2 linked regions of the Homo sapiens genome follow. The protein of the gene in region 1 interacts with the protein of each later gene in a pairwise test. Each region holds a gene or a part of one and is shown in the gene's direction. Other genes may lie near its edges.

The links. The genes of interacting proteins can lie anywhere in the genome.
Region 2: the proteins of FHL5 (region 1) and HOXB9 interact in binary tests that used the Homo sapiens proteins (3 or more experiments, as listed by UniProt).

Annotation. Positions count from the first base shown.
Region 1 is NC_000006.12:96,607,031-96,616,061, forward strand, and holds part of FHL5 (four and a half LIM domains protein 5), read left to right. Parts: intron 1-3,541; coding exon 3,542-3,728; intron 3,729-8,578; coding exon 8,579-8,742; 3' UTR 8,743-9,031. UniProt on the Homo sapiens protein: May be involved in the regulation of spermatogenesis. Stimulates CREM transcriptional activity in a phosphorylation-independent manner.
Region 2 is NC_000017.11:48,620,656-48,623,358, reverse strand, and holds the end of HOXB9 (homeobox protein Hox-B9), read left to right. Parts: intron 1-223; coding exon 224-459; 3' UTR 460-2,203; downstream 2,204-2,703. UniProt on the Homo sapiens protein: Sequence-specific transcription factor which is part of a developmental regulatory system that provides cells with specific positional identities on the anterior-posterior axis.

The DNA of each region.
Region 1 (9,031 bases):
AAAAAAAACATTTTCTAAGAGAAAAAAAAAGTAATATTTTTGAAGTAAACTTCATCCAATTCTTTTTTTATCCTCTAAGCTTTTATGTGAAAAAGTAGCTCTAACACCTTGATGAAGCCTGTCTGCATTCCATAAAATATATATGGAGGTTCTCAAAGAAATCCTTGACCTGCGAGGCATCATAAGTTTAAAATGACACCATAAATTGTCATGAGAAAGCTGAATCATGAAAATACATTGGATTAGTATAGTGGTTTCAAAGTATTTTTTATCTGTGGGTTACTTTGGCAGAACTCTTAAGCCCATTTGTATATCTGGACAGCTGGAAGTCACACTACCACTTTCTATGCACACATATGTGAACACACATGCACATACACACACACACACACACACGCAGTTAACTGTTTAACATACATAACCAATACCACTACTGCATTTAAAGAGGCAGCAATACACTATGCTAAGTTATCATTATTAAATTACACTATGTTGATGGCTGAGAATTACAATTGATCACATGACATAAAATAATCTTATGACTGAGACCTTCATTACTCTACCAAAACACTGGCTTAGAAGGTGACTTTACAAGCAGCAATCAAGCCATATGACATATGAAGCTCCAAAGAATTACCAGGGTCAATGACGGCATTTAAAAACATGCTGGAGCTGGGCATGGTGGCTCACGTCTGTAATCCCAACACTTTGGAAAGCCAAGGTGGGAAGATTGCCTGAGGCCAGGAGTTCAAGACCAGCCTGGGCAACATAGTGACACCCTGTCTGTATAAAAAAAAAAAAAAGTTTAAAAATTAGCCAAGTATGGTGACACGTGCCTGTAGTCCCAGCTACTTGGGTGGCTGAGGCAGGAGGATCACTTGGGCCCAGAAATTCAAGGCTGCAGTGAGCTATGATTGAGCCACTGTACTCCAGCCTGGGTGACAATGAGATCCTATCTCTAAAAAATATACAAAACTTAAAAACTAAAGAAAATAAAATCTTGCTGGAAATAAAATGAATAGGTTTATCTCACTGTTTTGAGAGACAACTGAGTTGGCCAATTTTAGGCTGCATTTCTTAAAGACAGACTAAAACAGTAATGATATTTGTGAGAATTATCCTAAAATCATTTATCAGACACAATAATGAAGACTCTTTCAATGCTATAACAATTCAAGAGTGAAACTTCTTTAGTACATCCATGCTGAGCACTGTCTGGGCCAAGTGCTGATGTTTCCCAGGTTATTGGAGCCTGTAACTATATTTAGGATATGATTTGAAGTCATCAAAAATTTACAAAATATTTATATTGGGTAGTAGACAGATTATGACATGCCAGATTATTTTTTATTTAGTTTTTAAAACCACAAGTCCTTTTCTAAAAAGCTAGATTTGTTTTTGATCAAGATGATCCAATCTAAACAATTTTTTTCAACCCAAACCAAAGACCAAATATTTTCTTAAAAAAAGGAAAAACTACTTGACAACCAGGCTGTTAGAACTTTTAAGCTTTAAAATCCATAGATTTTATTTTGTTAAACTAAGATTTATTTTCTGCCAGAAAGCAAATGATTTTAAACTACAAGTGCTTCAAATTCAAACTCCTCAAGGTTCAAAAGGAGTTAAACGTCTTCTTCGATTTTTCATCTGTCACATAATGAGTGCAAAATCATTATTGCCCCCACTTTTTCACAGAACAAACTTGTTCTAAATCCTGAGATCAATCAGTGGTGAAAACCAAGCTTAGATATTAGACTTTATCTTACCTTCCTACCTCTTCAAAAGGAATATAATCACAAGCAAACTATTTTTGATGTTCCAGAATTTCTTCTCTCTAATTAAACAGTCTTTGGTGTATATATCAAGTTTTATTTTGCTGTGAATACATTTTTCAAGTTTCAGATCTTTTAAGCATTGCCTGCTAATCATCAGACCAAACAAATCAAAGGAATCATGAATTCTGCTGTGTCTGCTGTAAGGCATTGGAAGTCAGTAGGAGGTATTTTAAATTGCTTTACTTCCATCACAACATTATGCTTCCCATTTACTTATTCAGAATAGTATGCTTTTTTCCCTCTAGGAAAATATCTTTCATATCAAATATCTTTAATTTCTAAGATATTTGTTATAAGATTAAAAATACCTTTAGAATAATTTTTTCACAAGTCTATGTAACAGACAAATAACATTTTTGAGTTCGTAAACAACGAGGCGGCTTAAAATAGGCTCTAAGTTTTTACTACCTAGTTAATTTGATACAAAGGTTATAGGAACCACCTCAGATACCCCATTGCTTCAGTCATTATAAAACACTTACAAAAACACATTCCAGTATCTACAGCAATTCTAAGAGCTCATTAGCTGTGAATTCAAAAGGTGATGTGGCTTAAAAATAGTTACATGAGAAAAAATGCCCAAGATTTATCCATCTGATTCTAACTAAAGATTTCTCAGCCTTTTAAAAAGTAGAATTCATGGATTAAATTGGTTTAGAAAGAAAATATTATCTTATGCAGAACTAATTACATCTCAGGCAAAACACTGCACATCACACCTTAAGGCTCAATGTACAACCAGGGCTTATTCCATTGAGTTCTAATTCCCACAGCACCCCACTGCTAGATACAATATTGGAATTGCTTTCCAACTATTTTTTCCTTTGGCATTTATTCATTCATTCAACAAGGATTTTCAACTGCTTATCTGTGTAAGGTAACCTTGACTCAGTATGGCACTGATGGTGATGCACACAGGCTGTGGAATCAGACCATGCAGGTTTGAATCCTAGCTCACTATGGCCATGGCAAGTAACTTAATGACTGTAACCCTCACTAGTTGCTCATCTGAAAAGAGGGAAAGATAATAGTCTGTAGTATGTAGAGGTGTTGAGAATATTCAGAAGAGATCATCCTTAGCACGGTGGTAAGGACTGAAAAAACACTTAAGAAATGGTAGTTGTTATTAGCAAATAATGGTGCTTACCAATTCCATTCAGAATTACTGCTGTTGGATATTCTTGGACCTGGTGTAAAGCATTCAGGAAAAAGAAGAATTCTTTTAAGCATCCCTAAAGTTAGACAGGTAGTTATAAGAACATAGTATAGAAAATAGCTCTAACGGCAGATCTTTAAAAACCAAAATTAAGAAAATTCAGAGAAGTATGAGGAAGTGAAAAAAGAACCTGTGTGGTTTTTCTCCCCCATCTTCCTGAGTCCAATATGGCCCTGCCTCTGTTCTATTTCATTGTAGGAGAAAAATATACAATAATTTCCATTTCTTTCTACTTCTAATTAATTCCTATAGCCTTTGGCTTCTCATATTATTAATTTTTAATGACTTTTTGAGGAAAAGAACATCCTAACATAAGGTGAAAATAGAGTAGCCAAAAGCACCAGTTGTGGCATAGAAGACATGAAATGATCTTTTTTTTTTCTTTTTGCTTCCTTTTCTCCCCAGAGATACTAGGATCTCAAAAGAATCATGAAATGATCTGAATTGTAATGGCTCCCATGGTCATTGCCTTTTCTGTGGTCTTTGGCAGGTGATAACTTCAGGTGGGATAACATTTTGTGACCAGCTATGGCATAAAGAGTGTTTTCTGTGTAGTGGCTGTAGGAAAGATCTCTGTGAAGAACAGTTCATGTCCAGAGACGACTATCCATTCTGCGTGGACTGCTACAACCATCTTTATGCCAACAAGTGTGTAGCCTGTTCCAAACCCATTAGTGGTGAGTTCTTCAGTTCAATATGATCATGCCATGAGACAGTTATGACTTTATGAAACACTATCTAGTTAATTTAGGAAAAGCAATTAAAAAATGGGAAGCTTTCCTTTATATTTCCTTTTGAGATAAACACAAGTGGGTGCATATATATGAGTATAAATATTACATGGATTCCTCAAGGAAAGTACAAGAGTATAATTTGGGTGACTATACTCTGTGAAGGTAACTACATACTAAACCTAATGGTACTGACTCTAACATTCAAGGAAGGAGGAGAACAGGATGAGCTGAGAGGTTAGTGCAGGCCTTCACGAGGAGATCTGCTTGCAGCCTCATTAAGTTTTGAGTGGGAGGAGAAGAGTACTAATAAATCAAAATCCTGCTTAATTCTAAAATAGGACCAAGCATCCTTTAGTTAGGAAGGTTTTAATTAAATTCCACTATTGTATAGAACATCTGAAGCTGTAATAATTAAGGTAGCATAGGTCAGTAATTAATTAAACTTCATTTTAAGATGCTTCTAACAAATGTATTACTCTCTTTTCTCTATTCACTTGCAATTATGAAGTGTGTTTATGAGTAGATGAAAGAAAACAAGATAGCATTTTACTGAAAAAAAAATGTGACATGATTTGAAAATAACATAATGATAAATCAATCCATGTTAAAGAGGTTTTCAAGGTAAAAAGAAATACATCTTTTCCTCAGAGACACTTTTAAAATGCTAATCCTATAATAAAGGAACTGAAACTAGCATGACACTTGAGAAACTCAGCAGCTATTCTTTCTGGCAATTTATAATCACTTAATAATGTGTCAGAACTGTATATCTACTTTCTATTCCTAGTATTCTTAGAACATATTTCAATTTTTAGTTGTTCATATACCATAGAATTAAAGATCATTTTATCCCTTTCCTCCTTCTTCATCTTCAAATATGTGGCAAAATAAAAGTTGAGTCTTCATGCACTTTCCAACCAAAAGAAAAAGTTTCACAGCAAACCCCACCTTGGCAGGCTTTCACTGACTTGCAAAGGGAGGGAGGGTGTCACCAGAAAAAAACAGCATGGTCTTATTTGTCTATATGGAGCACCATCTGTGTCAGGATCTCACACTGGCTCACGGGCTACATCTGGCAAGCAGGCTGTTGATGTTTGGCCTGAACATGTTTGGAAATAACTAATGTAAAATCCATCTCTGCAGCTAAAAGTAGAGGAAGAGCCTGCCATTGGGTGAGCAGACTGCCTCCACATTCCCCAGCAGGGTCACCATCATATGGAACTCGTGGCTGTCCAATTGCATGGGGCATGCCCTCTCTGTCCCTTGCACCCTGTCTGCATCACTCAGCTAGATCACCTCCCTGGCCCTTGCAAGAACTTGCCTTAGCAATCCCACACCACTCGGCTCCAGGGTCCATGCTTTTAATTACCCTGCTCTCCTGCCTTCTACAAATTTGACAATTCCTATAGCCAAGAGATCTCCACTGATTTTAGTTAGAAAATGGGACTTTCAGATATCCAACAATACCTGGAGCTCCAGAATCTCCCAAGTAAAATCTGCAATCACAGTCCATTTATTTTATAACAACACTTATCTTGAATTGGGACAGAAAAAAAAAGGGGACTTCAATGAGAAAATAAGGAAATTAACAACTCAAAATAAGTTTCAAAATTCTCTGGAGATCCAGATGGCTAATACTGATCTGCAAAAAGCCTACACAAGCCCTGAACTTGAGTTTCAATTCTGGTATATCACAGATTCATGTGCCTAAGTGATTTTTTTCATAGATTGTTCCAGATCAATCACTGGGCCCAGCTTTTTAAAGTTGAGATGGAAAAACAACGTTGTTCTGCACAAAAACATGAGGATGATCAAAAGTAAATAATCTGACCCAAAAGTAATCTAAATTTTACCCAAAAGTAATCTAAATATTATATATTTAATTTAGACTCATCAGTCCACAGGAAATGTCTAATAACTATCTTAATCTTTTTTTTAACTTTGTGATTGAGACACCAGAGGCTGAAATGCCTGCAAAAACTTACAACTCACTTTACTATTTCTTCATCTAATTGTTAAATATCTATAGGCCCTGAAGTACTGCTTCTTTAAAATTGAGCTATTTGAACTGATGTACCATTGGGAATTCTGATATTGTCACACGTCTTCGGAAAATTGGCATTAATCTGATTATTATGTCACTTTAAAAGCTAGGTATTCTTGGTCAAAGGATACACAATTTCAGTTAAACAGGGGAAATAATTTCAAGATCTATTGTACAACATAGTGACTATAGTTAACAACTATGTATTATATACTTGAAAATTGCTAAGAGAATAGATTTTTAAATGTTCTCACCACACACACAAAAAAGCATATGATAAGGTAATAGATATGTTAATTGCCTTGATTTAGCCATTCCACAATGCATACATATACAAAAACATGTTATATAATATATGTACAATTTTTATTTGTCAATTAAGATTAATCAATTATTTTTTTAAAAAGCTCTGAGAAATCTACCCATAAATCACCAAGTGTAATTTTTAAAACCCATCACATTGAACTGCTTCATTTGAACAAACTCCAGATATAGCTACCATATTTTCTCCTCCTTTGAGATAGGATTAACCTCTTAAACTATCAGGGATAAATGAAGCTGCTTGATGCAGTGAAAGGTGCTCTGGACTGAGGAGCAAAAGACTTGGTCCTCCCTGCCCCCACTGCTGTGTCACCATGGGTGACTAACTCACCTCAGGGGTGGGGGGCCTTCATTTGCCTTATTTATAAAACAAGCAGTTGAGCAGGTTGGCTTTCTTCCATCTCTGTTTATTTCAAGGAAAAGGAATTTCAAATGTTGTGGCTTCTTCAGAGAGTGATGCTGATGTTCCTGATCATATTCTTTACCAAAGATAAACTCAAACTTAGTTTCATGAGGTTAAAAGCAGAGACTCTAAAGACAGATGGCCCTGGCCTGTGCTTAAATCTTAGATCTGCTGCTTACTAGCTGGGTGACCTGGGGCAAGCGGTTAAACTTCTCACTTCTCAGTTTTTGTCTGCAAAGTGGGGCTGATGCTAATATCTGACCCCATGAAGGTAAGGTGAGGGCTGTATACGGTAACACACATAAAGGACTTAGAATAGTAATTGGCACACAGTCAAGCACTCAACAAATGCCAGCTCTTATTCTACTGACTTGTCAGAAACCTATGAAACCAGATAACACAGGTGTCAAAGACCTGCTTCATGAATGGCTTTCTTACTGCAAACAACCCTCATGACCTAAGGGAGTAAACATATTCCTTTTGGAACAGTTTACATACATCTCACATGTTGGTTCAGCCCTTTCTTAAAGTTGCCAGATGCTTCTACTTTTTCTTATTTGTAAAATTCCGGAAGAATTGCTTTTATATTTGCCACTTGTACAAGGCTTACTAATAAAATTAAGAAAAACTCATGAGCATCAAAATGCTAGACATGTAATAATTAGTTTTATGAACAGCATAATTTATGTATATACAGAACATTACTCTTGCAGTCAGCTTATTAATGTTTTGAATAACATTAAGGGAATTAAGTAGTACATAATTAATTTACATTTATTAGGAAGTAATGTTGATAGCATCATAGATAAGCAAGCTATAAATTTAATCAAGGAAAGTAGAGAAATTTGATGCAATTTTCTGTATGAACTACTAAATTATATATGAAGACATCAAATAAGTTTGTTAGGATGGAAACAAAAGTTCATTATCCTATTTAAGAAGAATGTATCTGAAATAGAATGCTATTCACCCTTTCACTTCACCATTCCAAATGGAGTATTTGGAAATTACATATGAATTACATAACTCTTTTAGCCTCACTCCATGGATGATAAGCAAATAATAGCACTAAGATTACTGGGAGAAAACATGAAATAAATAAAGACCCAAGCCTAGGGCATCTCAACCTCTTCCCAAACCCTAACATTTTCTCCTTTAATGTAACTTCTCAAAATCAATTTCTTGAACTATACCCTGGAATCACATTAAGGAGACAGAGATCAGACCCTCACCGAAGATTCAAATTCGACTACTTTTTAAAGAAACAGTATGGTTCAAGTGAGGCCCAAGTTAAAGTGGAGGAGGCTGACAAAGCTCTTAGAAACCAATCACGTGATAACGTGGCTTCATTGGCCAGATTCAACAAAAGCTGAAGCTGGCTCTGAGCAAGGTAATAAGGCCATCACGTTAGGATGGCTGAATGATTAGACAAAATCCTCTATTTGGTTATGCTTTCTAGAAATAGTGTCCCAAACCGTATAACCCCAGGACATATTCTAAGTACAACTAAGCACAGAAAAATGAGGGGAAAGAAGAAAACTAAAACTCATTACAACATTGGACATCAAACTAGGAAGCATACATTTATTTCCTTTTATCTTCATTTTGCAGCTAAGAAAACTTAAAGTCATATAGAGAAAAAGGGGAAATGTATTCATACTTAGATATCTCTGACTTCACAACCTATACCTTCTTTCCACTATGCTACACTGTATTGTCTTATCTGGCTTAGACAACCTTATCTGTTTCCAAAAATACCTGACTTGCATATTAGCATTCTGCCTTCTTCTGTTGATTATGGCAGAATTTGGCTGTGAATCTGGTTGGGTGGCATAGGTGTAACTTTCCTACAGTGGATAGTTCCAGATGGACACAGGGCCAGGAAGCAGCATTCTTTTTTGGGTTATTTGCCTCTGCGTTGTTTTGCTCATAGCTCTATCTCCAGTTCCTAGAGGAGCATCTGCTAGAATGCTCAATCTGTTCCTTGAAAGGATAGATTAATCTTTTTCTCCAATTCCTTTACAGGTCTCACAGGTGCCAAGTTTATCTGCTTTCAAGACAGCCAGTGGCATAGCGAATGCTTTAACTGCGGGAAATGCTCTGTCTCCTTGGTGGGTAAAGGCTTCCTGACCCAGAACAAGGAAATCTTCTGCCAAAAATGTGGCTCCGGAATGGACACTGACATCTAGGAGACAGTCCTTGCCCACCTAAAATCCATTTTGCCTTCGTTGTCACTAAAGCCAGAACTCAGTTGCGGTCTTATTTTTGACTTAAGTTTTAGAAAATATTCATGTAGTTTAGAGTGGAAAAGTTTTTGCACACATTTTGATCGAACTATATTCTAAGCACACAAAAAGCACAGTAGAACAGAAATGAATATATGCTAAATCACAAAGACAACTCTCCTTGCAAAATACTGCACTCTGCTGTTAGAAGCAGAGGAAAATATCTCTTCATAATCAAATATATGACATATAC
Region 2 (2,703 bases), on another chromosome or scaffold:
AAGCCTGGGCCCACGTTTGGCTCCATCCTTTCCACACAGCCTCTCACCTGGAGGTGTCTATAGCAATGGCTGGCCCATCTGTGACACCCTTCCTGGGAGCTTGAAGACCCAGGTGGCCTCTTCTCCAGTGCAAGATGGGGAGTGGAGACCAAGGGAGTGCCCTCTTGATCTGGGGCCCTTCACCCCCTTCCTTTCTTTGATTCTATCGCTGCTTCTCTTTCAGCCAACCCCTCCGCCAACTGGCTGCACGCTCGCTCTTCCCGGAAAAAGCGCTGTCCCTACACCAAATACCAGACGCTGGAGCTAGAGAAGGAGTTTCTGTTCAATATGTACCTCACCAGGGACCGTAGGCACGAAGTGGCCAGACTCCTCAATCTGAGTGAGAGACAAGTCAAAATCTGGTTTCAGAACCGGCGGATGAAAATGAAGAAAATGAATAAGGAGCAGGGCAAAGAGTAAAGATTAAAGATTACCCCCAGTCCTCCCTAGCTCTTCCCCATCTCACTCTTAGTTATGTGACGACTGCAAAGCCAGTGCTGTCTGGGATGTATTCAAGTGAATGGGGAAGGGAGTCTCTCTTCCAAGTCCTTTATCTGCACCTAGAACCTCCCTCCTTTCCTTTGCCCTTACCTGTCTCTCTCTTCTCTCTAGGTGTCAGGAGAAAGTTTTGTTGATTTAGAAGATAGAAATAGTTGGTTCCTAAGAATGTGATGGGCCACAAGGAAAGAGAGACCCCAGTCAAGCTCCTAGTATGCCCTGTAATTTTTCTGGGAAGTCCTAGCCCCTCACTTCCAGCTTGCCTGTTTCTTCTCTACACCCACCCAAAAGTCACCCAGGGACACTCCAACTCTACACAGCTCAGCAGACATCCACACACAGTAATGGGGTGAGCTCACAACCACCATTCAGTCAAGTGAGGTGACACTCCAGTTGCAGACCATCGCACACCAAATTTGGCAAAACAGCCCTCAGACTGTCAGGCAAGCCCGGGTTCTACCCCTAATGCAAATACCCACCAGGGAGATGTCTAGAGGCAGACTCCTGAGTGAGGTGTTGCAGCCCAAAGGCTGCAGCATTGCCATACCATTCCCATGGAGTTGCCAACTATTCTCAGGCCAAGGGCCATGGGGAAGATGGAGCAAACCTAGCCCCCAAGCCGGTGGGCTAGAAAGTACAAGAAAAGGCAGCACGTGGTTTTATGAAGCTATCTTAGGTGGAGCTACTCCCCACCTCCCACCAACATATACATTTTGTTGCAGGAAATGTTTAATTCCGCATGATGTTTCCCTCTCCTTCCAACAAAAGAAGGTCAAACTGTGGGTCGTAGAGCCTTGACAATGTTGTCCTCCTGTTCATCTGTGCACCACTTGACAGACTGTAGCTTCTCTTGCTCTCGACCGGCCCTGCATTCTTCCGCACCCTCCCTAGCTCTGAAATCAACTCTCTTCGGTCGTATCCACCTTGCACCCGCAAGTCAAGCCGCCCCTTGTAGAAAAATCCCTCCACCTTCCGTTCCCCGCTAGGTCAACCCCACTGTAGACAGGAAAGCCAGGCCAGGAGAGTCCGAATGAGAATTTATTGTGAATCGATTCCCAAGCTCCCTTCCGGGACAAGTGGTCTGGGACAGGGAGGAGCAACGGCCCCAGCGCGCAACGCTCTGCGCGTTCCTCCGAATCCCGTCGGCTTCTCGACCCACGCAGAGAAGCCCCGGGCTTGGCGGCTCTAGCCCCAGCGCCAAAGGAGACCCGCCCCAGGGCCGGGCTTGGCCTCCTGCTTCATGGGCCTGGATGCAGATCTGCGTGGCTGGTGCGTGCGCGCGCTTCTGGGAAACAGTCCCGCGTGCAAAGGAAAGGGGCAAAATGGCACCTAAGCATCAGATGGAAGCTTACTCTCTGCTTCCGTTCCTCCCCCTGCTCCCCTACTTCTCAGTCCCCTTCAATTTGTAGACTCTTGCTCCTGCTTCTCCTGATCCTGCAAGGGGACATTCCAGTAGAAGTTTTTTGCTTTGTCGGTGGCTGTCGTGAAATTGTGCTTGTGTTTCGTGATTTCTTTGGGGGTGATTGTCTCGCTTGTTTTCAGTTGTCGATTATATGGGAGGGTTCTGGGTGGGAGTGGGGAGGGCGAGGGGCCTAGAGCTCTAATTGTTTGTTTTGGAAGAAAAAAAGAAAAAGAACAAAAAATATATATCACTCTAGAAAATAAATCTCTCCTGTGTCTTATTCTGTGTTGGCTCTCTGGGCCTGACCATAGGTAGAGATCCCAGTTGTCGGGAGAAAGGCTTGGAAAAAAAAAGATTGCTGAGTCCAGGAGGTTTCTCCTTACACCCTGCAGGGCAAGGTCCCCTGCAGAGCTCTCTAGAGGTGGAGCTGAGAGCCAGTCCCAGACCCCAGGTCCCAAGACTACTGGTTAAACTGATCAAGAGCCTTCCAACAGGAGAACTGGAAAACGAGCGGGGAGGGAAGGAAATGTGGGTTGTTTGGAGAGGGCACAGGGTCTGGGGAGCAATGAGGTCCTGAAACCTCCTCATTGACTAGAGAATAGGAGGGAAGGTAGGTCTTCCTGCACCTCCTGGGGGTAGCTCTCCTCCCTCAGCCACTGAGAATGTCACCTTAGTTTGGCCGCTTTAAAATATGATGCAAGGGAGGAACACAGTAATTTCCCTCTGTTCTTCCCTGCAGTAGGGTGCCTAGGTCTAGACAGAGG